Linked DNA regions of Homo sapiens. Changing the gene in region 4 together with the main gene of any one other region gives a genetic interaction. Each region holds a gene or a part of one and is shown on either strand. Other genes may lie near its edges. The genes, in order: MAN2A1, SEC24B, MAN1B1, ARFGAP2, TRAPPC13, SEC23IP and FUT8.

Region 1 (3,500 bases), on a different chromosome or scaffold from region 4:
CAATAGCTTCTGCAGTATCAATTTAAATGATACATCAAGCTGGTAAATGTGAGCTGGCCTACCAAGTGAAAGCATAACTAAATTTAAATAGCTCTGATATAAAAATAATGAATCAGTACATCAAAGATTAAGAATGCAGTTAGCAAAAATTAATGTTCAATAAAGAAGCATGTGTGACTTTTAAGTTAGATGGTATGTCATTCAATGACCAGATAAGGACTAAGTTCAGGTGCAGTTTATTCAACTGATGTGTGTGTTTGAAAAATAAGACGAAAACATAATGCTTTATTTGAATAAACTTTAATAAAACAATATATAATGTATGGACATAAGGAAACCTAAGTCCTCGGGGATTATAGGGGAAACCAAGGCATGAGGTTACCTAACAAGGAACCTTAGAACATAATCTTACCTGGCTCAGTACAAGTAGGAGAGAATGGTAGCAGGTGAATGGGCAGTGAGCATGGACCTGAGGAGAAATGAATTTGCCTAACTTTCTTGCTAAATAAATGTGCTTTTGGATGCTGACATCGAGAGAGTGGTGTGTGAAGTACCATAAATATTTGCTTTATTGTCTGCGCGGTGTGACTGCATTCTGCTCATTTGCAGGTGGGCAATGGGCACTCCAATGAGGCAGCCTTGATCCTCCACAGAAAAGGGTTTGATTGTCGGTTCTCTAGCAAAGGCACAGGGCTGTTTTGTTCTACTACTCAGGGAAAGGTAAGTTGAAAAGGTTATTTTTGCTTACTGTTAGTGTGCTTTGAAATCCTCTTTCTGCAAAGGATCTTGACAATAAGATCATGTTTCATTGCTTCTTTACTGTCTCAGTTTCATCAGTCTGCAAATTAGTTTGAATCTCCCCATCTGAAAAATGCACTTTCTCAAAACTTCAGCCTCCTTTCCTTGTTGACATCAAAAGGCATAGCTGGAATTTATGCACATTTGAAGGCAATGCTCTTGTTATTTCCTAGGCCTTCTATTTCCAGCCTACAAAGTGCCTTGCTCCCAGTCCCCCAGTTTTCTCCTCCCCTGAACCACACATGCTCACATATCATCTAGTTCAGCATTGGTAAACCTAAGTCCTACAGAGGCCAAGGCAAGTTTATAATAACTGAAGCTTATAGAGGTAGCCATAAAGAAGCAACTGGGAAAATTGAGACTGTAGGCTAGTGGGATAATCCACCCACAGCCCAGGAGGCAGCTGTACGTAGCGCCAATCAGTTGTTTTCCCTTGGGAAATAAATGTAGGTCTTGGTCTTCTGATTAATGCAGATTTGCATATGAGTCAACACACCGTGCAGGCCAAACAGATCCTCAGTCTGAACACAGCTTGCTGGCTGCCTATTGTTTATTTCTCTTCAAGTTGGTCTTTCTGGCAGTTCCATCAAGCCTGTCCTTGAAAGGAAACAAACCTCCAATCTCCTGCCTCTGTCACTGAAAGGGCCATGACTCAGAGAAGGCAGCTGGGCTGATTTAGGTACACAGGCAGGTCTGCCTCACCAGGCAGCTCAGCTGACCCAGCTTTCCTCCAAAACCTCATAAATAATGCTGTAGACCAGACTCAAGTGATTCAGTTCCAACCCTACAAATTAGCATGTGTGTGGGGTCCAAAAAGATAAGAAAAATGTGGTAGGAGCCCTGAACCTACTTAGATAGATTAGCTTCTACATTTCTTTTACCCTACCCTGCTTGGAGCTGGTGCCAAGAAAGCACTGATATTTTTATTACTTTTTTATTATACTGTATTTGCACTCTATTGTATTGTTGATGATCTAAGTTTACTTGGTTCTGAGCATTCTGACATTAAGGCCTTGAGTCATAAGGGGGTTATACGATCCAGAGAGACAGATAACATGGCAGCGGTGAGGGAAATACTTTCCAAATGACCTGTCCACCTCTATAGACTGGGACTCAATGACATAATGATCCCTCCTTGTAGTGAGCCTGTGTGCTCTCTCTTAACTCTGTTGGAACAGGAAAAAGTGGTTGAGGACTACCATTGTTAGGGGTAAGTATTGACTAAAAGAGAATGAGGATGTTTTTAAAGCTTCTTGGCCATTGGAGGTCCTTTCTTTTATTGAAAAAGCCCCTGTGCATGATAAAATTCTCAAGCAATACAAAAAGGAATGCAGAATATGTTGCTCATGACCATTACTGGTTTCCTGTTCCCTTCCAAGCGTAGTCTGTATGTTCAAGCATGTATATATGTATATTTAATTCACCCTTTTTTCTGTAAAAGAGAACTTATATATGTATATTTAATAACATATATGTATATTTAATCCACCCTTTTTTCCTCAAAAGAGAACTTCAACATACTGTTTTATTCCTTCTCATACTAATTTTCACAGAATATGTAGTTGTGCTGCTAATCTTCAAAGTTGATCTAAATATGTAAATTTTATCATTTACTTTTCAGATATTGGTACAGAAACTTTTAAACAAGTTTATTGTCGAAAGTCTCACACCTTCATCACTATCCTTGATGCATTCACCTCCCGGCACTCAGAATATAAGTGAGATCAACTTGAGTCCAATGGAAATCAGCACATTCCGAATCCAGTTGAGGTGAACCTGACTTTCACATTTGGATTGAGAATCATTGGCTTTTATACCTTTCTTGGTTTGACGTGCAATAAAGAAGCACATTATTTTAGCTTCTGGCTACTGTGAGAACATGAATTCTGTGATTCTGTGGGTTTTTTCTTTTTTCTTTTACCAGTACAGTAAGAAAAAAAAAAAAAAAAAAAAAGCCATGCTATCAATCAAGATTCTTTTTTTTTAAACTTTCTCCCATGAACTACCACCATCAGTATGAATTGATGCAACAAATGAAGAAATATTTAAAGACAGCCTCTCAACAGATTGTATCTCAGGTTAAATGCTAACTAATTATGTCTGTGTTGGGGGTTGCGAAGAGATTCTTAAAAGTATCTGTGTGTTGATCATCAGTTTTACAAAAACACCTATTTGGCTGAAATGGAATAAAATGTTTGTGGGTAAAAGCTAATGGCCAAAATGGTTGCAATCATTCATACTAGTTAGAAAAATTATGTGTTGAAATAAGTGGAAAAGTGCAATCCATCCACCCTTATGATTAACGTAGATGATTTTTATACCTTTTTCTGATGTACCTCTTGACCTTCTCCTTCCCTTCCTACCCTTTCTAAGTATTTCCAGAAATACCTGATTTTGAATCATTCAACAGTAGAAAAAGAGGCATATTTTCATTACTTGACAATGTGGGATGGGTGCAATTTATTCCATCTTCACTAAAATAGAAGCAATTCCATAGGTACCATAAACCTATTTTAGGTACCACAAGGTGTCTTTTTACACAGCTCATTTGAATACAGGTGTTCTGAGAAGGGGTTTCTATTTTAAAATTACCATATCAAAATAAATGTGCCTTATTTTTTTATAAGTCTTGTTAAATCAGTGTCCATATTACTGTTTGGGGAAGGGGGAATGTTGTGGGGTCTGGGAGAGGGTGGGTACTT
Region 2 (3,500 bases), on a different chromosome or scaffold from region 4:
TGGTGGCAATGAATATGGTTTACAAAATTAATTACTGCTACAATCCCAGAAACTTGGGGGGAGAGGAAGGGAGTGAAAAGACACTGCAAACAACTAAAGCAATATATATAGCAATAAAAAATAAAAATTAAACCCAGATATAAGACCCTTGTTTACATATGGAGTGAATACTTTAAGATCTTTTTTTTTTTTTTGCGACGAAGTCTCGCTCTTGTCCCCCAGGCTGGAGTGCAATGGCACAATCTTGGCTCACCACGACCTCCACCTCCCAGGTTCAAGTGATTCTCCTGCCTCAGCCTCCCGAGTAGCTGGGATTACAGGCACCTGCCACCACGCCTGGCTAATTTTTGTATTTTTAGTAGAGACGGGTTTCATCCTGTCGTCCAGGCTGGTCTCAAACTCCTGACCTCAAGTGATCCGCCCGCCTCAGCCTCCCAAAGTGCTTGGATTACAGGCGTAAGCCACCATGCTCGGCCTACTTTAAGATCTTTGAGATATCTATCAATCAGCTTAGAGCCAGGCTCAGTGGCTCACGCCTGTAATCCCAGCACTTTGGGAGGCTAAGGCGGGTGGATCATCTGAGGTCAGCAGTTCAAGACCAGCCTGATCAATATAGTGAAACCCTGTCTCTACTAAAAATACAAAATTAGCCAGGCATGGTGGCGCATGCCTGTAATCCCAGCTACTCGGGAGGCTGAGCAGGAGAATCGCTTGAACCCGGGAGGCGGAGGTTGCAGTGAGCTGAGATTGTGCCATTGTATTCCAGCCTGGTCAACAAGACTGAAACTCAGTCTCAAAAAAAAAAAAAAAAAAAAAAAAAAAAAAAAAAAAAAAAAAAAATCAGCTTAGGAGGAAATTATGTATTCAGACACAGTCACTTTAATACCACAGGGGTATATTCATGAGAGGACCTGATGCTTCCGGTTAGCTATAAATGGAGACTAGAAACCTGAGACACTGATGTGGCTCTGATCAAAAGGAACTTATTTGAGATACACTAGGGAGATTTATATCATTTTAAATGCTGCATGTGCCCTCAAAGTTTAAGGGTTTCCAGTGACTGACCCGATAGTACTGCTGTATGAATGGTATGTTTATTTACATCTTCCATAGTGAGTTCTAGTAATTCCCATTACTATCTCATCTTTCTTGCATTATTAACAATTAAAGTGATAAAACTGTAGTTTCATTCTGGAAAAGGGCATATGGAAGGATTAAAATATACTTTCATTTGAAAATGAACACCATTTGCTTCCTAAAAGTAAAATTAAAAAGCAGCAGCTTATTATTAAATCTGACTGCCCCATCCCCTCACCTCCCAACAAGTTCATTACCAGGCTATTACTTTAGTCAGTCTTCCTACGTTTGAGGACTCAGCTTTGGAAGGAATCCCAAAAGGCAGAGTAAAAGGTAAGAAATATTCAATTAATGCTTGGTATGGAAATACAAATAGTTTTAAAAATCCATATATTGCTCAATGAAAAATGAAGGATAGAAATACAACACCAAGGAAGGAAGCTTAAGAGAAAGATTTCACAGACTTGAAATCAAGTCAAGCTGTATCTTCGAATAAGTGGAGGAAACATGCTAGCAGTTACACCTAGAAAACAAGTAAAAGTGATCATGAAGACTAGGTTTTCTGCCTCTCTATTCCTTTCTTCTCAAACATCAAAGTTTCTAAAAAGAATTTTCTTAGAGTCTGTTAACAGAAAGAGATCTTTAGGCTGGGCATGGTGGCTCATGCCTGTAATCCCAGCACTTTGGGAAGTCTAGATGGGAGGATCACTTGAAGCCAGGAGTTTGAGATCAGTCTCTACAAATTTTTTTTTAAAAGTTAGCTGGGTATGGTGTCACACACCTATAGTCCCAGCTACTCAGGAAGCCATGGTGGGAAGACTGCTTGAGCCCAGGAGTTCAAGGCTGCAGTGAGCTATGATGGCAACACTGTACTCCAGCTTGGGTGACAGAGTGAGATTCTGTCTCTAAAATAAATAAATAAATAAACAAACAGACAAAAAGTTTTAAGAAGAGATCTAGAGTTGGAATTAGCAAAAATAAAATGGACTTCATTTAATACATGTCTAATGAATACCTGTAACTTGCCTATACTGTTCTAGGCTCTTATTATACAACGTGAACAAGAGACAGAAAAAACTGCCACCCTCACAAAGCTTTCACAGAATTGGTAGAAAATGTACCTACTTAACCTTTCTGAATCTTCATTTCATCTGTAAAGGTAGGGATCCAAACTATGTGTTTTTCAAACTGTGCTTAAAAACAACTGAACTTCTACTTCTATTTTAACCGCAACCACTTTGCTTTTTTCTGATTTCTCTATCAGGGATCTATATACAATATCCTTTGGAAAAACAAATCTTAAAAAACGTTTGTGGGCCAGGCACGGTGGCTCACGTCTGTAATCCGAGCACTCTGGGAGGCCGAGGCAGGTGGATCACAAGGTCAGGAGATGGAGACCATCCTGGCCAACATGGTGAAACTCCATCTCTACTAAAAATACAAAAATTACCCAGGAGTGGTGGTGTGCGCCTGTAGGCCCAGCTACTCAGCAGGCTGAGGCAGGAGAATCGCTTGAACCCAGGAGGTGGAGGTTGCAGTGAGCTGAGATCGTGCCACTGCACTCCAGCCTGGGCGACACAGCGAGACTCCGTCTCAAACAAACAAAAAAAGTTTGCCATTTGCTAACCACTTGTAAAAGAAAAAACAGGGCCCAGCCCAGTGGCTCACACCTATAATCGCAAGACTTTGGTAGGTCTAGCCAGGACGATCACTTGAGGCCAGGAGTTAGAGAACAGCCTGGGCAACATGGTGAGACTCAGTCTCTACAAAAATAAAAATAAAAATAATTAGCCAGGAGTGGTAGTGCATGCCTATAGTCCTAGCTACTTGGGAAGCTGAGGCAGGAGGATCACTTGAGCCCAGGAGGTTGAGGCTGCAGTTAGCTATGATGGAGTCACTGACTCCAGCCTGGGTGGCAGAGTGACACCCTGTCTCTAAAACAAACAATAAAAAACAAAAAACTTCTTTCACTCTACTCTCATTCTGCACAGACCACTTCTGTGACCAGATGTGTGAATTTTTGTTTTTATTTTTCCCCAACAGACACCAACTGGGGGTCCTCCAACTCAATTCAATTCTGACACTACCTACCTGAAGTTAGACTCGGATCCCACAGATTAAGGGTTCAGTCCCACAAGATGGCTCCCCACTTCAGATGCCTATCATAAGTATCACAAGTAGCAGGTTGCCATCTGTACTTCTGAGGAACCAGTTACAAACTGGAGTTTCTACTACCCCCTCCTTAGGTTCAATTACTTTGGTAGAAGGGCTTGTGGAAGTCAGGAAAACATTTAAATTTATTGTTTATTATAAAGGATATTACAAAGGATACAGATGAACAGCCAAATGAAAGAGATGTACAGGGCAAAGGATGGGGGCAGGTGCCGCCACCCTCCCAGCATCTCCACATGTTCAGCAACCCA
Region 3 (3,500 bases), on a different chromosome or scaffold from region 4:
TTATTTATACTGACTTTATATATTTTAGTATCAGGATTACTCCTACGGACTTGGTGGCATTCTTTTCTTGTGATTGTGATGGAGATCACTTTTCTTTTCTTTTTCGAGACTGAGTCTCACTATCACCCAGGCTGGAATGCAGTGGTGCGAACTCCGCTTGCTGCAGCCTCCACCTCCCAGTTCAGGCCTCAGCCTGCTGAGTAGCTGGGATTACAGGTGCGCACCACCACGCCTGGCTAATTTGTGTATTTTTAGTAGAGATGGGGTTTCACCATGTTGGCCAGGCTGGTCTCAAACTCCTGACCTCAAACCTCAAGTGATCCGCCTGCCTCGGCCTCCCAAAGTGCTGGGACTACAGGTGTGAGCCACTGCAACCTCCTGAGATCTCTTTTCAATAACATTTTCTAATTGATTACTGCTACTATATAGCAAAGTTCTCTAAAACTAATTTCTAAGCCGGATGAAGTCATAAGAAGCATACTTGGTAAAGGATGAAATATTCTAACTCACAACAGTCATACTAATAATAAAGGGAATACCAATAATAAAGGAAAATATAAAAGTCCTAAGACTCATCAAAGGACACGGACAGCTTCCGGGATGGGAGCACATAGGGCCGTTCATCACCTCTCCCCTCCTGTAAGTGTCCCTGCTTCTAGGCAAGACACACAAGCATCCACGAAAAGCAGGCGCCAGTTTCTGACTGTTGCATTGGAAACATTGCCGACACGAGAATGCCCAGTGCTGCCATGGCACCACTGACTGCTACTCTCAGCACCGTAGCAGGGGAAGCAAATTCGGGAATAGTTTGTCATGATACACGTCATAGGACATCAAAATCTTCACAACCTTTAACTCTTAATAGTTTACGTACAACGGATGTAATGGGGACATTTACAAATGAAGAAAGAATCAACAGATAAATGATTTAGAAAATGATGGTTTATCCAAGCAATGGAGAAGAGCTATAAAAATCTGTATGAAAGGGAATATTCTCATGTGCATAAAAAAAGAAACAGGGACCAATCCAGCCCCTAACCCTCAATTACGTACACACGTGTGTATCCAAATACCAATCCAGCCCCTAACCCTCAATGATGTATACATGTGTTTATCCAAATAAAATTATTATTATTATTTTTTGAGACAGGGTCTCCCTGTCATCCAGGCTGGATCATAGCTCACTGTAGCCTCAACCTCCCTGGCTTAAGCGATCCTCCCACCTCAGCCTCCCAGGTAGCTGGGACTATAGGCATGTCGTGCCTGGCTAATTTTTTTTTTTTTTGGTAGAGATGGTGGTCTCACCGTGTTACCCAGACTGGGCGTAAGCAATCTGCCTGCCTTGGCCTCTGAAAGTGCTGGGATTACAGGTGTGAGCCACCATACCCAGCCACATAAATTGAAAGACATATACCAAGTGTTTCAAGAGTTGGACTGGGAACAGGGGTAATGTGTGGCTGTGTATTCCCCTTTATACCTTCTCAATGTTCCCATTTTCTCTCCTAAGCCCCTATAACATTTGAAATCAGACAGGTGTGGTGTCTTATGCCTGTGATCCCAGCATTTCAGGAGACTGAGGCAGGAGGATCACTTCAGCTCAGGAGTTGGAGACCAGTCTGGGCAACATAGTGAGACCTCATCTCTATTAAATAATTTTAAGGCCGGGCGTGGTGGCTCACGCCTGTAATCCCAGCACTTTGGGAGGCTGAGGCGGGCAGATCACGAGGTCAGGTGATCAAGACCATCCTGGCTAACACGGTGAAACCCCGTCTCTACTAAAAATACAAAAAATTAGCCGGGCGTGGTGGCGGGCACCTGTAGTCCTAGCTACTCAGGAGGCCAAGGCAGGAGAATGGCATGAACCCGGGAGGTGGAGCTTGCAGTGACCTGAGATTGCGCTACTGCACTGCAGCCTGGGAAACAGAGGAAGACTCTGTCTCAAAAAAAAAAAAAAAAAAAAAAATATAAAACAAAAAAATTTGAACTCAACCAAAGTAAAACGTTAACAGAAAGGGATCTGGCCTAAACACAGCCTCATCCCTAACCAGGTCTAGACAAGTGCCAGGGTCTGAACAGGAGAGGCAGTGCAAGTGATCCCTGGAGGGCAGGATGTCTCCAAGTCAATGCTTGAGAAAGACAGAAATATTCACCATCCACCACCCCAGCTGCTCCTGGACACTAGGTGCTGGCTTATGGGTCACTTGTGAGTGGTGGAAACACATCTTTCAATGGAAAAAATACCACAGTCTGCTCTCAGGCAGTTACGATACTCCATATGCAAAGGAGACGAAGGACCAAAGAAGGAAAGGAAGCACCTGTCGGCTTTCCAGTCAGGAAAATTCAATTTGTAGACAAAGACCTTGGTCAAAGGCAGAAATCCTCACACCGAAGAGTGTGGAGCAGTGGCCCCATGGCCAATCAAGAGCAGGACTCTCCCATCAGGCACGGCACCTTCTAGGGGCCAATTCCCACCCTACACCCTCTGCCCGGCTAGACCACCCTTGGAGAAGCTGCTCAGCGACAGGAATGCTGCCTTTGAAAGGAGAATGTGGGTTTGCTTCCTTCTGCTTTTTGGTACTGTCCATCCCCTCTCTATTGAGCTTATAGAAATTTTAAAAGGACACATTTTCTTGTTAAAGAAATCAAAGGGCCGGGCATGGTGGCTCATGTCTGTAATCCCAGCACTTTGGGGGGCTGAGGTGGGCAGATCAAGAGGTCAGGAGTTCGAGACCAGCCTGACCAACATAGTGAAACACGTCTCTATTAAAAATACAAACGTTAGCTGTGCGTGGTGTCGGGCGCCTGTAATCCCAGCTACTCGGGAAGCTGAGGCAGGAGAATCACTTGAACCCGGGAGGCGGAGGTTGCAGTGAGCTGAGATCACACCACTGCACTCCAGCCTGGGCGACAGAGTGAGATTCCGCCTCGAAAAAAAAAAAAATCAAAACACCCCCACGGCAGTCTGAGGGTGGCCCAAGCTCATGGGGGCCAATGCCCCAATGCCCCTCTTGCTGAGATCCTTAGCCAGTGGGCAGCAGCCTGCCTCCAGCTCCCCAGCCCAGGAGCTGTTCCTCGGCAGGTTACCACTCCCAAGGCCACTGTTAGAAAGCGCTGTCTGTCCCTGTCACAGCCCTGCAGGGAAGTCCACCTGGCGCTGAGGACTCTGGCCACAGGTGAAGCTCCCAAGGCACTCCCACACCTGCTAGACACAATCACAGATGTACCAACAACAGTAACTAACACCCTAAGGGCCTTCTAAGGGTTCCGAGCAGCCACACCAGAGTCAGCACCACCCTGGTGTTCTCAACGGTGTCGGGGATTTGGCTGTTCTTCCTGAACCAAACCTTCACTGACAGGACGTTTTCCTGGTTCTCCAGCTGCCTCCTGACCCATCCCCAGTCTCCACTCCCCCTGCCCTCCTCCCTGACCCCAATCTTCTCAGCCTGGTGGTGCCCAGGACTAGGCCTGGCCCCTTCTTCCAACGTTTCCAGAGGACACAA
Region 4 (3,500 bases):
TGTGGCTCTGAGGGGAAGATGTGGAATATCTCGGACTCCTCCCATTATCATCAGGGGAGGCAGAGTACAGAGGCCAAACAGAGCACCAGTGGCCTTTTGGTGATGGGTTACCAGGTCCCATTCTGTCTGTGGCTCTGTGGCTCTGGGCCCCTCTCCCCTGGTGAGGAGTCACCCTTCTCCACATTGAGGCCAAGGCCCAGAGAGCTTAGGAACCTGCACTAGGCAGGGTGGAAATACAGCCTGCAGTGGCCTAGGCTCCTGCCCAAAAGCACACAGCTTCGTCAGCATTCAGGAGGCCACACAACTGCTGCTACCCTAATCCTAGTGACAACTTGCCTAGTACTACAATGAGCATATGTGTCGGTCTGCCTGGCTTTATACCTACTCTTGTCATAACTATGAATAGCAAACTGCCCCCTTTACTCTCAAAAGCATCCTGGTGTGGAAAGGGAGATGGTTGCTCTCATCTCACGCTGAGTATGTGGACACTGGGCCAGGTATTTCCGGAGACCCTATGAAGTAGTTACGTTCCCATTTTATACGGGGATAACTCACAGATATTATGTCAACTAAACAGATCCCAGATTAAGATGGAGTAGGGTTTTAAAAAATAAGAAGGGGGCTGGAGACATAAAACCCCTGAAAGGAGGTCAGGACTGAAGCATACAATCAGGCTCCTCCGGCCAGAGAAATGGACCCCAAGCAAAAGAAGCTGCCAGGCCCTCTATGATGACAAAGCACAACTCAAACCGAAGCCTGACTGCTGCCCTGTCTAATGAGGCAGGCACCAGCCACTGGTGGCTATTTACGTTTATCAGAAATTAAACTACATCAGAAATTGTTGCTCAGTTGCACCAACCACATTTTAAGGGCTCATAGCCACATAGTAGTGGCTACCATATTAAACAACACAGAGAACATTCCCATCAACACAGAAAGTTCTTCTAGACAGTGCTGCCTTAGAATTCTCTACCTTCAGCTTGTTTAAAAAAAAAAAAGAAAGAAAAAAGAAAAAACAGCCCACTCTACCTTTCTGAAATAGGCCGGATGCTTGAGATGGTCACTTCTGGCTCCTTCTCCTCTACCCTGTCCATACCCCAGGCAGCATCTGTATCCCAGCGGGAGCCAAAGCTTTCCCCTAAGGAAAAGGGATTGTCCTTGTACCTAGGGAGACAGTAGAGTGGCTCAGAGAAGCCTGATGAGGAACACAGCAGCCAAGTTTACAGCTAGAAAACAGCCTTACTTTGGGGGTCCAGAGGCGAAAGTACCAACATCGTCAAACAAGTCCAGCTGCGAGCGAGAGGATTTTGCACTCACTGGGGTTTCCTGCTCAATCACCTGCATCTCAGACAGCACGGAGTGGGAGACAGAGCTGCGCAGCAAAGCAGAGCCAGGCATGAGACCAAAGGATAGGCATCAGCATCACCGCACAAGAGACAATGCCCAGCAACTGGGTTCTCCTTCACGGAGCGTCACCCAGAGCCTTCTGTCCTTACCCAAGCACAGGGCTGGGCCAGACCCCAACAGAAGGCTAGCTGTGTGTGGTGACCTGTGAAGCACACCTCAGAATTCTTTACACATCAGCTTTGTTTATTCCACGTAGGAGTTCCCTGGCCAGTGACGGTTTGCCTGTTATAATTTAATTTTATTTATTTATTTGAGACAGATTCTCACTCTGTCGCCCAGGCTGGAGTCCAGTGGTGCAATCTTGGCTCACTGCAACCACCACCTCCCAGGTTCAAGCGATTCTTGTGCCTCAGCCTCCCGAGCAGCTGGGACTACAGTGCACGTCACCACACCCAGCTGATTTTTTGTGTTTTTTCAGTAGAGACAGGGTTTCGCCACATTGCCCAGCCTGGTCTCAAACTCCTGAGTACAGACAATCCACCCGCCTTGGCCTCCAAAAGTGCCAGGATTATAGGCGTGAGCCACTGTGCCTGGCTCGTGTTGTAATTTTAATATTGTGCACCAGATGCCAGTGGTCTCTGTCCTGAACAACTCCCTACCTTGTGCACTATGAACCCCATCCTTCACTGATGGGGTTCACAAAGCAAAGGAATGGATGAAGAAATGCCCCAGCACCAGGGAAATGAACATAACTGCATCAAAGAATGAGTTCTTCATCATCCTACTCTTTATTAAAAAAAAAAAAAGCCAGGCACCGTGGCTCACACCTGTAATTCCAGCACTTTGGGAGGCCGAGGCGGGCAGATCACGAGGTCAGGAGATCGAGACCATCCTGGCTAACATGGTGAAACCCCGTCTCTACTAAAAATACAAAAAAATTAGCCGGGCATGGTGGCAGGTGCCTGTAGTCCCAGCTACTTGGGAGGCTGAGGCAGGAGAATGACGTGAACTTGGGGGGCGGAGCTTGCAGTGAGCCGAGATCGCACCACTGCACTCCAGTCTGGGCAACAGAGCGAGGCTCCGTCTCAGAGAGAAAAAAAAAAGCACCTCAAAGCACAAAGACTGGCCTTATGCACTAAGACCTAGAATTGCTGTCTCGTTTCTCAAAGAAAAGGGGTCTAGGGTTGGCAGGCAATACAATACAACTCTTGATGCCTCTCATTCCTCTGTCAGGCTCCACAAGGACACTTTAAGGACTAATTTGATTTAAATCAATTCATTAAAAAATATCTATAGCTTTTAGCTAGAAGAACCCCAAGGAGTGATTATTTTGCAATAGGGCTGAGTTGGGCCGGGCATGGTGGCTCACACCTGTAATCCCAGCACTTTGGGAGGCCGAGGCAGCCGGATCACCTGAGGTCGGGAGTTCGAGACCAGCCTGACCAAGACGGAGAAACCCTGTCTCTACTAAAAATACAAAATTAGCCAGGTGTGGAGGCTGAGGCAAGAGAATAGCTTGAACCCCGGAGGCGGAGGTTGTGGTGAGCTGAGATCACACCATTGCACTCCAGCCTAGGCAACGAGATTGAAACTCTGTCTCAAATAAATAAATAGGGTGAGTTGGGTTTAAGTAAACAATTGTTGCACTGCTAAAAAACTGTTCATATGCCTTAACCCCTTGGTCATCCCTTAACCCAGTCATCTATTAACCCAGTCATTCCTATGTGACTGAAGCAGGGAAAGGAGGGAGACCCAATGTCCTTTCAAGTTAAAATGTTATGCTCTGGCTGGATGTGGCTCACGCCCGTAATCCAAGCACTGGGCGCCGTGGCTCACACCGGTAATCCCAGTACTGTGGGAGGCCGAGGCGGGCAGATCATTTGAAGCTAGTAGTTTTACACCAGCCTGGGCAACATGGTGAAACCCCATCTCTACTAAAATACAAAAATAAGCTGGGCATGGTGGCACATGCCTGTAATCACAGCTTCTCAGGAGGCTGAGGCAGGAGAATTGCTTGAATCTGGGAGGCGGAGGCTGCAGTGGGCTGAGATCACACCACTGAACTCCAGCCTGGGTGACAGAGCAAGACTCCATCTCAAAAAAAAAAAAAAAAAAAAGAAAAGAAAAGAAAAAAGAAAGCCGGGCACCGTGGC
Region 5 (3,500 bases), on a different chromosome or scaffold from region 4:
AACACATGTGTACCACTATGTCTCTGCCTCTGATTACCATGTCTCCCTTGCCTTGTTATCTGTATCCTCCCATTCTTTCAAGATCCTCTTCGCATTCCCTCTCCCCCAAGAAACCTTCCAGATTGACATAATCTCCAGTGATCTTTCATCTTCCATGTTAATGACATACATTAACAAATACTAAACTGCTATTTAGCTTTGACTAGTACATTTTCTCACCCAAGCAATCACAAATCTTGTGGAATAGGAAAAATGTTTTCATGCCTAACATAATACTTTATAACTGTAGGCATTCATTAGTGCTTGTTAATGACAATTAAAAATTATTGTATCAAACGTGCATTTAATGAAGTGCCAAAAACATAATAGATATAAAAAAACCTTTTTTTCTTTTTTTTTTTTTTGAGATGGAGTCTAACTCTGTCACCCAGGCTGGAGTGCAGTGGCGTGATCTTGGCTCACTGCAACCTTCACCTCCCGGGTTCAAGCCTTAGCCTCTCCTGCCTTAGCCTCCCGAGTAGCTGGGACTACAGGTGTGCACCACCACACCTGGCTAATTTTTGTATTTTTAGTAGAGATGGGGTTTCACCATGTTGGCCAGGCTGGTCTTGAACTCCTGACCTCAGGTGATCCACCTGCTTCAGCCTCCTAAAGTGCTAGGATTACAGGCATGAGCCACCATGCCCGGCCTAAAAAAAAACCTTTGTTAAAGACTAAAATACATCCCAAGTAAGAATGTTACTTACTTTTACTAATATGTCTTTTACAACTTGATTGCTATCATTATGAACGCTGATATAACTGGAAAAGGTCTCTCCCAAAAATATATTCCTGTAAAATAAAATAAGTATTTAGGCAGAAATCCATTCAGGTTTTTTTTCTTTTTTTTTTTTTTTGAGACAGAGTCTCGCTCTGTCACCCAGGCTGGAGTGCAGTGGCACGATCTAGGCTCACTGCAAACTCCGCCTCCCATGTTCACCCCATTCTCCTGCCTCAGCCTCCCGAGTAGCTGAGACTACAGGCACCCACCACCACGCCTAGCTAATTTTTTGTATTTTTAGTAGAGACGGGGTTTCACCATGTTAGCCATGATGGTCTCGATCTCCTGATCTCATGATCCGCCCGCCTCAGTCTCTCAAAGTGCTGGGATTACAGGCGTGAGCCACTGTGCCCATCAGGTTTTACATTAAATAATCTGTTTGAGAATCACTAAGAACTTCAAATGGAGAAACATTTACTGAAGGATAGAAATCTGGTGAAATACTGCTTCAACATTCCTTTGTTCACACTAGGCCACTCATTCATTACCTAGTGCAATTCAAAATACAGACGTAATCTATAGAACATGATATATCTTGGCCTTTGACTACTGTACAAAATGCCAACCTCACTAGAGATAAGACTCATTGAAATTAGACCTATGCTAAAGTCTTAGGATTTGTATCTGAATAGGTTAGAGAGAGCCAAGTTTCCATTCTTGAAATAACTTATTCCCTGAATCTAGAAGAGATCTAAGTTACTGATATTGGGGTATTTTTACCAATTTATTTTATTTCCTAGGTTACTTGAATAAAAATCACCAGTGGTTTTATTTTAGTTTTATACTTTTTACATGAATATATTTCCCAGTTTTTCAAGACACTAGTCAATGACCACATTCTGTAAAACTATAAAAACAATCTGTAAAATTTCTTTTTGTCTCAAATTCTGTCTGTTGCAAACAGAGTGGAACCAGGGGCTTCTACCTTATTATTAATCTAGAATAATAATACAGCTAAGGATAACAGAAGAAATAAATTTAGAGTTCCTAATTAGCTGACAAGTCTGATAACTCATTTTGGGAGAGGACTATGATGCAAAAAAACAAAGACTGGCTTCTGAAAAAGATGTTTACATTAGTAGTTAAAAGACTATGTGGCCATTACAAAATATAGTAAGATCTAAAGAAGAAAGTTAAAATTCTATTATGCTAGGAACCACTATTAACATTTTATTTTGGTATATATCTTTTTTTTTTAATAACAGAAAGCCATAATCACATAGTATGATTTTTTAATAATATTTTTGCCCCTCAAATGTATCATGTCCTAGGCGTGGTGGCTCATGCCTGCAATCCAAGCACTTTGGGAGGCTGAGGCGGGTGGATCACCTGATGTCAGGAGTTCAAGGTCAGCCTGGCTAACATAGCAAAACACGGTCTCCAATAAAAACACAAAAATTAGCCAGAGCGGTGCGCACGCCTGTAATCCCAGCTACTCGGAAGGCTGAGGCACGAGAATTGCTTGAACCCAGGAGGTGGAGGTTGCACTGAGCTCAAATGGCACCACTGTACTCCAGCCTGGGCAATAGAGCGAGACTCCATCTCAGAAAAAAAAAAAAAAAGGTAAATGTATCATGAGCATTTCCCCATCCCATGGTTCTGTTTTGAAAACATAATTTGTAATGGCTTTACAAGGTTTCTTATGTGAATATGTCATTCTTACCCAAAATTCTGTGGTAAAGTCAGCATTTCTCCCAACATTAAAACTTCTGCACCATTAACGGTTGAAGGATCATCTCTCATCAGCTGGTTAAAGAGATCTCCTGAATGAAGAGAAAAACATAAAATTCTAACATCTACCCTTTAAATAACTTTTACTTATATAAAGAAATAGCTGGGAGAGATATTTTAAAAAACAACCTCTTGACAAAGATGATATTTAAAAAGTCTAACTTCTAGATTTTAATACAACAAAGCATGTCAAAAAAATTCTGATCTCACAGGGAATGGAAACTTTAGAAACAAAGAAAAATGTACGTCATGAGATAGAAAATATACTAGAGAAAGCCCCAATAATTCTTAAAAAAAAAAGGGAATGCTAATACATACATTGATGCAACATTTGAGGATAAAGGCAATTTTAATAGTATTATGAATATGAATGTATCTTAAACTGTCTCATACTGCCATAGGATATCAACATAATTTGGACTTGTAGAGTATAAGTAAGGCCTGTTACTCAGATGGCCACCTTTCACATGATACAAAAATAGGCAACAAAGAATCCAGCAAATGGTTAGCATAAAATTTACAGGGCTAGGCTTAGTCCAAGGTAATGCAGGCAATTCAGGTTTCAACCTTTCCCTAGGTGCAAATAGAGGAAAGCATGTGCCATACCAGGTAAGTCTTTCTCTTCACATGTTACTGGGATATTGGTGAATAAAGTAGGCTTAGTCAGCCGCATCACTGTGAAGTAAAAAAGTAAAAGAAAACAAAACATTAATACTGCTTAGGGTTAATATTCTCAAGTCTAGTGTATGACATTCATCCATTTTATACTAACATAAAATATAACCTAAATACTTCCTAAATATAATACTACATACTTCCTAAGGTTATCACACATCAGTGATTTATTAAGAATTGTAATGTTACAAAATAAGCACCATTTATTTACAACCTATGAATTATAAAAATTAAATGTAAATACAATATGCATTCATTATAGAAAAACTGGAAA
Region 6 (3,500 bases), on a different chromosome or scaffold from region 4:
AGAGACAGAGTCTCTTTGTTTCCCAGGCTGGTCTCAAACTCCTAGCCTAAAGCAATCTTCCCACTTTGGCTTCCCAAAGCGCTGGGATTACAGGTGTGAGCCACCACACCCAGCCTGAGAAAAATTTACTTTTTATTTTGAGACGAGGTCTTGCTCTGTCACCCAGGCTACTAGAGTGCAGCGGGGAGCAATCCTGACTCACTGCAGCCTCAACCTCTCGGGCTCAAGTAATCCTCCCACCTCAGCCTCTTGAGTAGCTGGGACTACAGGCATGTGCCACTACACCCAGCTAATTTTTCTATTTTTTATAGAGACAGGGTTCTGCTGTCCCCCTGGCTCAAGCATTCCACCTGTCTCAGCCTCTCACAGGTGTGCACCTCGCCCTACGAAAAATTTGTGTTTTTGTTTCTATGATCAGTGTGAATCATAGAAATAATATCTGTATTATCCACTATAATAATAAAGTATTTTAAAAGCAATGCACTTGTTACAAAAACATTCCCACTGTAGAAGTTACTAAAAATGAACAATTTATCAAACATACACAGAAAAATATTAAAATGAACTTAATACCTTAAAATTTTGAACACCATCATTACCTTTGGATTGTGCATAACAATTGTCTCTCCACTTGGAAACTCTAATCTTCGGTGCCACTGATTAGTGGTTACAGCTTTTTTATATTCAGCCTATAATGGGGGAAACAACATATATTCCAACATGACAAATTTATACCACATGGAGAGAAAGTATGGAGGAAAACGGTCACTATAATGGTGATAAAAATAACAGTAATAGCAGTTCTCATTTCCTGACTGGTTAACATATTTTTTATCACCTTACACATACCATTGAAGTAATTACTCTCAATCACGCCTAAGTAACAGGATCCCCATTATATAATGAAGAAAACCAAGTTTTAGATGGTCTGTTCATTTCCTAGGGCTGCATTAACAAAGTATCACAAACAGAGTGACTTAGAAAAAAAATGTATCATCCCATAGTTCTGGAGGCTCCAAGTAGAAAATTAGGTGCCAGGAAGGCAGGCCACCGTTCCTCTGAAAGCTATAAAGAAATCCTCCTTCCCTCTTCCTAGCTTCTGGTGGTGGCTGGCAATCTCTGGCTTTCCTTGGCTTGCAGTGTAACTCCAGCCTTTGCCTCCATCATCATATGGGATTCTTTCTGTGTGTCTGTCTTCACATCACAAGTTATATTGGCTTTGGGGCCCATCCTATTCCAGTAAAACCTCACCTTAACTAATTACATCTGCAATGACCCTATTTCCAAATAAGGTCACATTCTGAGACACTGGGGATTAGTAATTCAACATATTTGGGGGATGGGGAGACACAATTCAACCCATAATAGACATTTTAAGTACTGTATACAGTTGCACAAGATGACACAACTGGGAAGCAGCAATGGGAGAACTGTAGTTCATTGCCACCCAGGACTGACTTTTTCTTTTTTTTCATGTGGGCTGGAGTAATATCACCCAGGACTTTCTGACTCCAAAATCTTCACTGTCCAACCATCTTCTTACTCTTCCTCCAGATATAGTCTTTCTTTGGTTTCTGCAGGGCACTGGATCCAAGACCCCTCAAAGATACCAAAATCCCTGGTGTTCAAGTCCTTTATATAAAATAGCATTATTTTTGCATAAAACCTACATACATCCTCCCTTATACTTTAAATCTTCTCTAGATTACTTATAATACCTCATGAAATGTAGATGTGATATCAATAGTTAAACTGTAATTTTTATTTTTTATTTTCTTGAGACAGAGTCTTGCTCTGTTGCCCAGTCTGGAGTACAGTGGTGCAATCTCTGCTCACCGCAACCTCCGCCTCCCAGGTTCAGGCGATTCTCCTGCCTCAGCCTCCCGAGTAACTGGCACTACAGGCAATGAGCCACTACATCTGGCTAATTTTTCTATTTTTAGTAGAGACAAGGTATCACCATATTGGCCACGCTGGTCTCGAACTCCTGACCTCAGATGATCCGTCCACCTCAGCCTCCCAAAGTGCTGGGATTACAGGCGTGAGCTACGGTGCCCAGCCTGTGTTATTTTTATTGTTGTGGTTTTCTAAATATTTTCAGAGTATTTGGTTGAATCTGCAGATACGGAACCTGTGGATACGGAGGGCCGATCGTACTATTCTAGTTTCTATAAAGAACAAGCGTGAGGACCTCTTGGGGAGAGATTCAACACAAAGTAAGAGGGAGCCTCTGGCATATCCACAAGTCCTTTTTTTTGTTCATTTATTTTTTTAATTGACAAGTAAAAATTGTTACAAAGTCTTTTTTTTAAAACTAGTAACAGTGAGTATTTGACAATCACGTGAAAATAGAAGTATTTCCTTCTGTTTCTTGGACAATCATTGAGTAACAGTAACAATTCCTCTTCATCAGTCTTCCGTACTTTTTTTTTTTGAGATGGAGTCTCACTCTGTCACCCAGGTTGGAGTGCAATGGCGTGATCTCAGCTCACCGCAACCTCCGCCTCCCAGGTTCAAGAGATACTCCTGCCTCAGCCTCCTGAGTAGCTGGGATTACAGGCGTGCATAACCATACCTGGCTAATTTTGTATTTTTAGTAGAGACAGGGTTTTACCACGTTGGCCAGACTGGTCTCGAAATCCTAATCTCAAGCAATCAGCCCGCCTCGGCCTCCAAAGTGCTGGGATTACAGGCGTGAGTCACCATGCCCAGCCTAGTCTTTTGTACTTCTGACCCTCCTCTTCGATTTAAAAAAAAAAAAAACTTCAAATATAATTCATAATTTCTAAAAGCAAGGCCACAAACAACAAGGATTAAAGAAAGAAAACTTTCACCACCTTAAAAATTATTTTCAGGCCACGTGTGGTGGCTCACGCATGTAATCCTAGCACTCTGGGAGGCCGAGGTGGGTGGACCACCTGAGGTCAGGAATTCGAGACCATCCTGGCCAACATGGTGAAACCCTGTCTCTACTAAAAATACAAAAATTAGCTGGGCATGGTGACAGGCGCCTGTAATCCCAGCAACTCGGAAGGCTGAGGCAGGAGAATCGCTTGAACCCAGGAGGCTGAGGTTACAGTGAGCTGAAATCACGCCACTGCACTCCACCCTGGGGGACAGTGAGATCCTGTTTAAAAAATAAATAAATAAATTATTTTCACTTCTTCATATTCCCTTTCAATCCACAGCTTTATAGTAAGTATTATCTGGTAAAGATTTCACATTTCATTGTCGAAATGGTCTTGGTTATCCTTGACATTTTGATCTTCCACAAAAAATTTAGAAGCAGCTTGCAAATTTTACCAAAAAAAAAAAAAAACCCTGATGTGAATTTTGATTGGGATTGCCTAAAATTTATCTGATAATTTGGGAAGAATTGACATCTTTTATGATAGTGCCTACATGAACATAATGTTTAGCTCCGTTTCTTTTTTTTTTTTTTTTTTCTGAGACAAGGTCTTGCTCTGTTGCCCAGGCTAAAGTGCTGTGACACGATCACA
Region 7 (3,500 bases), on a different chromosome or scaffold from region 4:
TTGTAAAGTTCTGATACCAAGGGTTTTCCTCTTTATTTTACCCTGGAGAGTCACCATAACTGCCAGCTTGTAGAACTTAAAAGTTGTCCCAGGAAAACATAGACCTGGATAAACTTTTACAGCACCGTTAAGACCAGCAAACCTTTTAACGGTTTTTACTATTTTAGGTAAATGAAACCGATTCCAGCCCTTCTGTTGTGGGCATAATGCATTTCCTTTCTCTGTTTTTCACCATATCAAATGACAGCAGATATTAATTTCACCTGTCATATTTAAGAAAAGCCCCAAAATTGTAAAATTGGGGACACAGATTCACACTTCCCTGTACTGAATAAGGCACTGACTTCCACAGTTTTCTCCTCTCTCCTCCCATCTTAGTGTTTCCAAAGTAATTTTTTTTTTTTTAAGACAAGGTCTTGCTCTGTTGCACACATTGGAGTGCAGTGGCGTGATTATGGTTCACTCCAATCTCTGCCTCCCAGGCTCAAGTGATCCTCTCACCTCAGCCTCCCGAACAGCTGGTACTACAGGCATGTGTCACCAAGCCTGGCTAATTTTTGCTTTTTTTTTTTTTTTTAATTGATGGGGTTTCAACCATGTTGCCTATGTTGAGTTTTCTCAAACTTCTGGGCTCAAGTGATCCACTTGCCTCAGCCTCCCAGTGTTGTGATTACAGGCATGAGCCACTATGCCTGGCCCCAAAGCAATATTAATGGAAATAAAAATAACAGTTTATTTTCATAAATTAAAACACCCTCCTTAAATCTTGCCTTCCCCTCCCCCCAAATTACTAAATCACTATTTATATGTAGAAAAAGGTAGACTTATACGCCTTTAGGTCACAGTATATGGGCCAAACTTAAGGCCAGTTTTTTATTATGAATCTGGAGTGAAGGTTTGATTTCACCAGAGTTACTCTGCCATCTTCACGGCTATTCTTTGCTTTGCATTCCAGACTATAACCCAGATGTGGATACAATCATATGAACATCTATTCTATCATCTTTCCTTCCCACATCCTTCATAATCACTCTTTTTCTGGGGAAATTGGAATTGTTCAGTGGGCTCTATAGAGATGAAGTGGGCAGAACGAATGATTCCATTGAATTTCAATCAAAAGTTACATGAGAAGAAATACGATTTGATATTCTGACTTCACATGTACCTTCTTTACGTCTAACACTTAGAATGGGGTCAATAACTCCTCTACATATGAAGACTAAGACACAAGGAAAGATGTGGGGTGGGAAATATGAAAATAAAAATAAAAAGAAGCTGGACATGGTGATACATGCCTTTAGACCCAGCTATTATACTTGGGAGGCTGAGGTAGGAGGATCACTTGAGCCCAGGGTGGTTGAGGCTGCAGTGAGCCACTACACTTCAGCCTGGGTGACAGAGTGAGACCCTATCTCAAAAATAACAACAACAAAAGCCAAAAGAGAGCTGTGATAAGAGGAGAAAGAAGCAAAGGAAGAGGAGAACTGGAGACAGTAATAGAGCACTACTAAGCAACTTTCTTAGCTGTTCTAAGTAAACAAACAAAAAAAAATAGTCTCCATGTGACCTTAGGATAGCTCTAGAACCTCTGTCCTTTGGTGGGACTATAAAAATTGAACTACATATTGTAAAATTCACAATATATTGTAAAGATACATAACCCTAACTACTACATATCACAGTTTGAGGGAAAAAATCAGATTCTTACCCAATAACTGGATGTTTGAAGCCAAGCTTCTTGGTGGCTTCTTCTATTTCTTTTTCTAGCCAAGGCTGTGGGCGGATCAAGTATTTGACAAACTGAGACACCCACCACACTGCAGGGTCACCATGCACTCGTACAAGTCGATCTGCGAGGTCTTCTGGTACAGCCAAGGGTAAATATGGAGGACGGGGATGAAGACTGTCTACAATGGGAAGCTCGACCACTTGAACATTTTTGTCCTTCACTTCACCTGACAATATTGAAACATATAATCATTACCACATGGTATTCCTTATACATCCACCATTCAACAAGAACTTATTCTGAGTGCTTTCATCCTCACAGCAACTCTAAAGAAGTATAATCTTCACTTTACAAAGGAAGTTAAATAACTTGCTCGAAATACCAGAGCAAAAGTGACGGAGGTGAATTTCACATGCAGGTTAGTCTATCTCTCAAGTCTCTGGTCTTTTCTAAAAGTTTCTATCATAACATGCTATCATACCAACACCTCATGGTATGCAGAACTCAAAGTATCTAATCAAAGAATGACAGTAGACACAGCCAGCTAGCAAAGTTCTATTTTTTGTTGTTGTTTTGGAATTAGAAAATAAAGTGTTCTCGAAACTTCTAGCTTTTCATTACAGCAAAATTGCTCTTGCATTACTTTCATGACAGAACACAATGACTCTGGAAACACCTGAAGATTATAATTATAAGCCAATCATCTACATCTTTTAAAGAAAAAAATTAGATAATTCTAAAATCTTTTTTTTTTTTAATCTATTGGAGGGAGATGAAGCAAGATGGCTGAATAGAAGCCTCAACCAATCGCTGCCCCCACCACAGGAACACCAAATTTAACAACTATCTACACAAAAAAGCACCTTCACAAGAACCAAAAATCAGGTAAGTGATCACAGTACCTGATTTTAACTTCATATTGCTGAAAGAGACACTGAAGAGAGTAGGAAAGACAGTTTTCGATTGTCTACTACCCCTTCCACCCCCATGCAGTGGCCGTGTGGTGCAAAGAATCTGTGTGCTTGGGGGAGGGGGAGCACAGTGATTGTGGGACTTTGCACTGGAACTCAGTGTTACCATGTCACAGCAGAAAGCAACACCAGGCCAACTGGCAAGCAACACCCGGGCCATTAGCAAAGAACTCAGCCAATGCCCATGGAGGGAGAACTTAGATGTGCCCTAGCCAGAGGGGAAATGTCCATCCCAGCGGTTGGAGCCTGAGTTTCAACAAGCCGCACCACTATAGGCTGAAGTGTCCTGGGGCCCTAAATGAACTTGAAAGGCAGTCTAGGCCACAAGAACTGTAATTTCTAGGCAAGTTTTAGTGCTGTGCTGGGTTCGAGAGTCATTGGACCTAGGGGGCACGTAACCTAGTGAGCCACCAGCTGAGGTGGCTAAGGCAGTGCTTATGCCACCCTTTCCCTAATCTAAGGCAGTGCAGTTCACAGCTCCAAAAGAGACTCCTTCCTTCCACTTGAGCAGTAGAGAGGGAAGAGTAAAGAGGACTTTATCTTGCAACTTGGATAACAGCTCAGCCACAGTGGAACAGAGCACCAAGTGGGCTCTTGGGGTTCCTGATTCCAGACCTTGGCTCTTGTATGGCACTCCTGGACCTGCCTGGGCCAGAAGGGAGCCCAGTGCCCTGAAGGGCAAGTCCCAGGCCTGGCAACATTCACCACAAGCTGACTGAAGAGCCCTTGGGCCTTAAGTGAACATGAACCGTAGCCTGGCAATAATCCCTGTGGGCTTGTAGTGGTGGTGGCCATAGGGA

Evidence for each region.
Region 1: changes in ARFGAP2 (region 4) and MAN2A1 together harm fitness less than expected from each alone (positive genetic interaction), as found in Homo sapiens cells (one large-scale study listed by BioGRID).
Region 2: changes in ARFGAP2 (region 4) and SEC24B together harm fitness more than expected from each alone (negative genetic interaction), as found in Homo sapiens cells (one large-scale study listed by BioGRID).
Region 3: changes in ARFGAP2 (region 4) and MAN1B1 together harm fitness less than expected from each alone (positive genetic interaction), as found in Homo sapiens cells (one large-scale study listed by BioGRID).
Region 5: changes in ARFGAP2 (region 4) and TRAPPC13 together harm fitness more than expected from each alone (negative genetic interaction), as found in Homo sapiens cells (one large-scale study listed by BioGRID).
Region 6: changes in ARFGAP2 (region 4) and SEC23IP together harm fitness more than expected from each alone (negative genetic interaction), as found in Homo sapiens cells (one large-scale study listed by BioGRID).
Region 7: changes in ARFGAP2 (region 4) and FUT8 together harm fitness less than expected from each alone (positive genetic interaction), as found in Homo sapiens cells (one large-scale study listed by BioGRID).

The regions. Positions count from the first base shown.
Region 1 is NC_000005.10:109,864,427-109,867,926, forward strand, and holds part of MAN2A1 (alpha-mannosidase 2), read left to right. Parts: intron 1-609; coding exon 610-720; intron 721-2,419; coding exon 2,420-2,572; 3' UTR 2,573-3,500. UniProt on the Homo sapiens protein: Catalyzes the first committed step in the biosynthesis of complex N-glycans. It controls conversion of high mannose to complex N-glycans; the final hydrolytic step in the N-glycan maturation pathway.
Region 2 is NC_000004.12:109,436,815-109,440,314, reverse strand, and holds part of SEC24B (protein transport protein Sec24B), read right to left. Parts: intron 1-3,500. UniProt on the Homo sapiens protein: Component of the coat protein complex II (COPII) which promotes the formation of transport vesicles from the endoplasmic reticulum (ER).
Region 3 is NC_000009.12:137,089,985-137,093,484, reverse strand, and holds part of MAN1B1 (endoplasmic reticulum mannosyl-oligosaccharide 1,2-alpha-mannosidase), read right to left. Parts: intron 1-3,500. UniProt on the Homo sapiens protein: Involved in glycoprotein quality control targeting of misfolded glycoproteins for degradation.
Region 4 is NC_000011.10:47,166,880-47,170,379, forward strand, and holds part of ARFGAP2 (ADP-ribosylation factor GTPase-activating protein 2), read right to left. Parts: intron 1,373-3,500; coding exon 1,244-1,372; intron 1,165-1,243; coding exon 1,030-1,164; intron 8-1,029; coding exon 1-7.
Region 5 is NC_000005.10:65,635,027-65,638,526, reverse strand, and holds part of TRAPPC13 (trafficking protein particle complex subunit 13), read right to left. Parts: intron 3,227-3,500; coding exon 3,158-3,226; intron 2,584-3,157; coding exon 2,484-2,583; intron 832-2,483; coding exon 747-831; intron 1-746.
Region 6 is NC_000010.11:119,906,230-119,909,729, reverse strand, and holds part of SEC23IP (SEC23-interacting protein), read right to left. Parts: intron 690-3,500; coding exon 600-689; intron 1-599. UniProt on the Homo sapiens protein: Plays a role in the organization of endoplasmic reticulum exit sites. Specifically binds to phosphatidylinositol 3-phosphate (PI(3)P), phosphatidylinositol 4-phosphate (PI(4)P) and phosphatidylinositol 5-phosphate (PI(5)P).
Region 7 is NC_000014.9:65,720,230-65,723,729, reverse strand, and holds part of FUT8 (alpha-(1,6)-fucosyltransferase), read right to left. Parts: intron 1,956-3,500; coding exon 1,709-1,955; intron 1-1,708. UniProt on the Homo sapiens protein: Catalyzes the addition of fucose in alpha 1-6 linkage to the first GlcNAc residue, next to the peptide chains in N-glycans.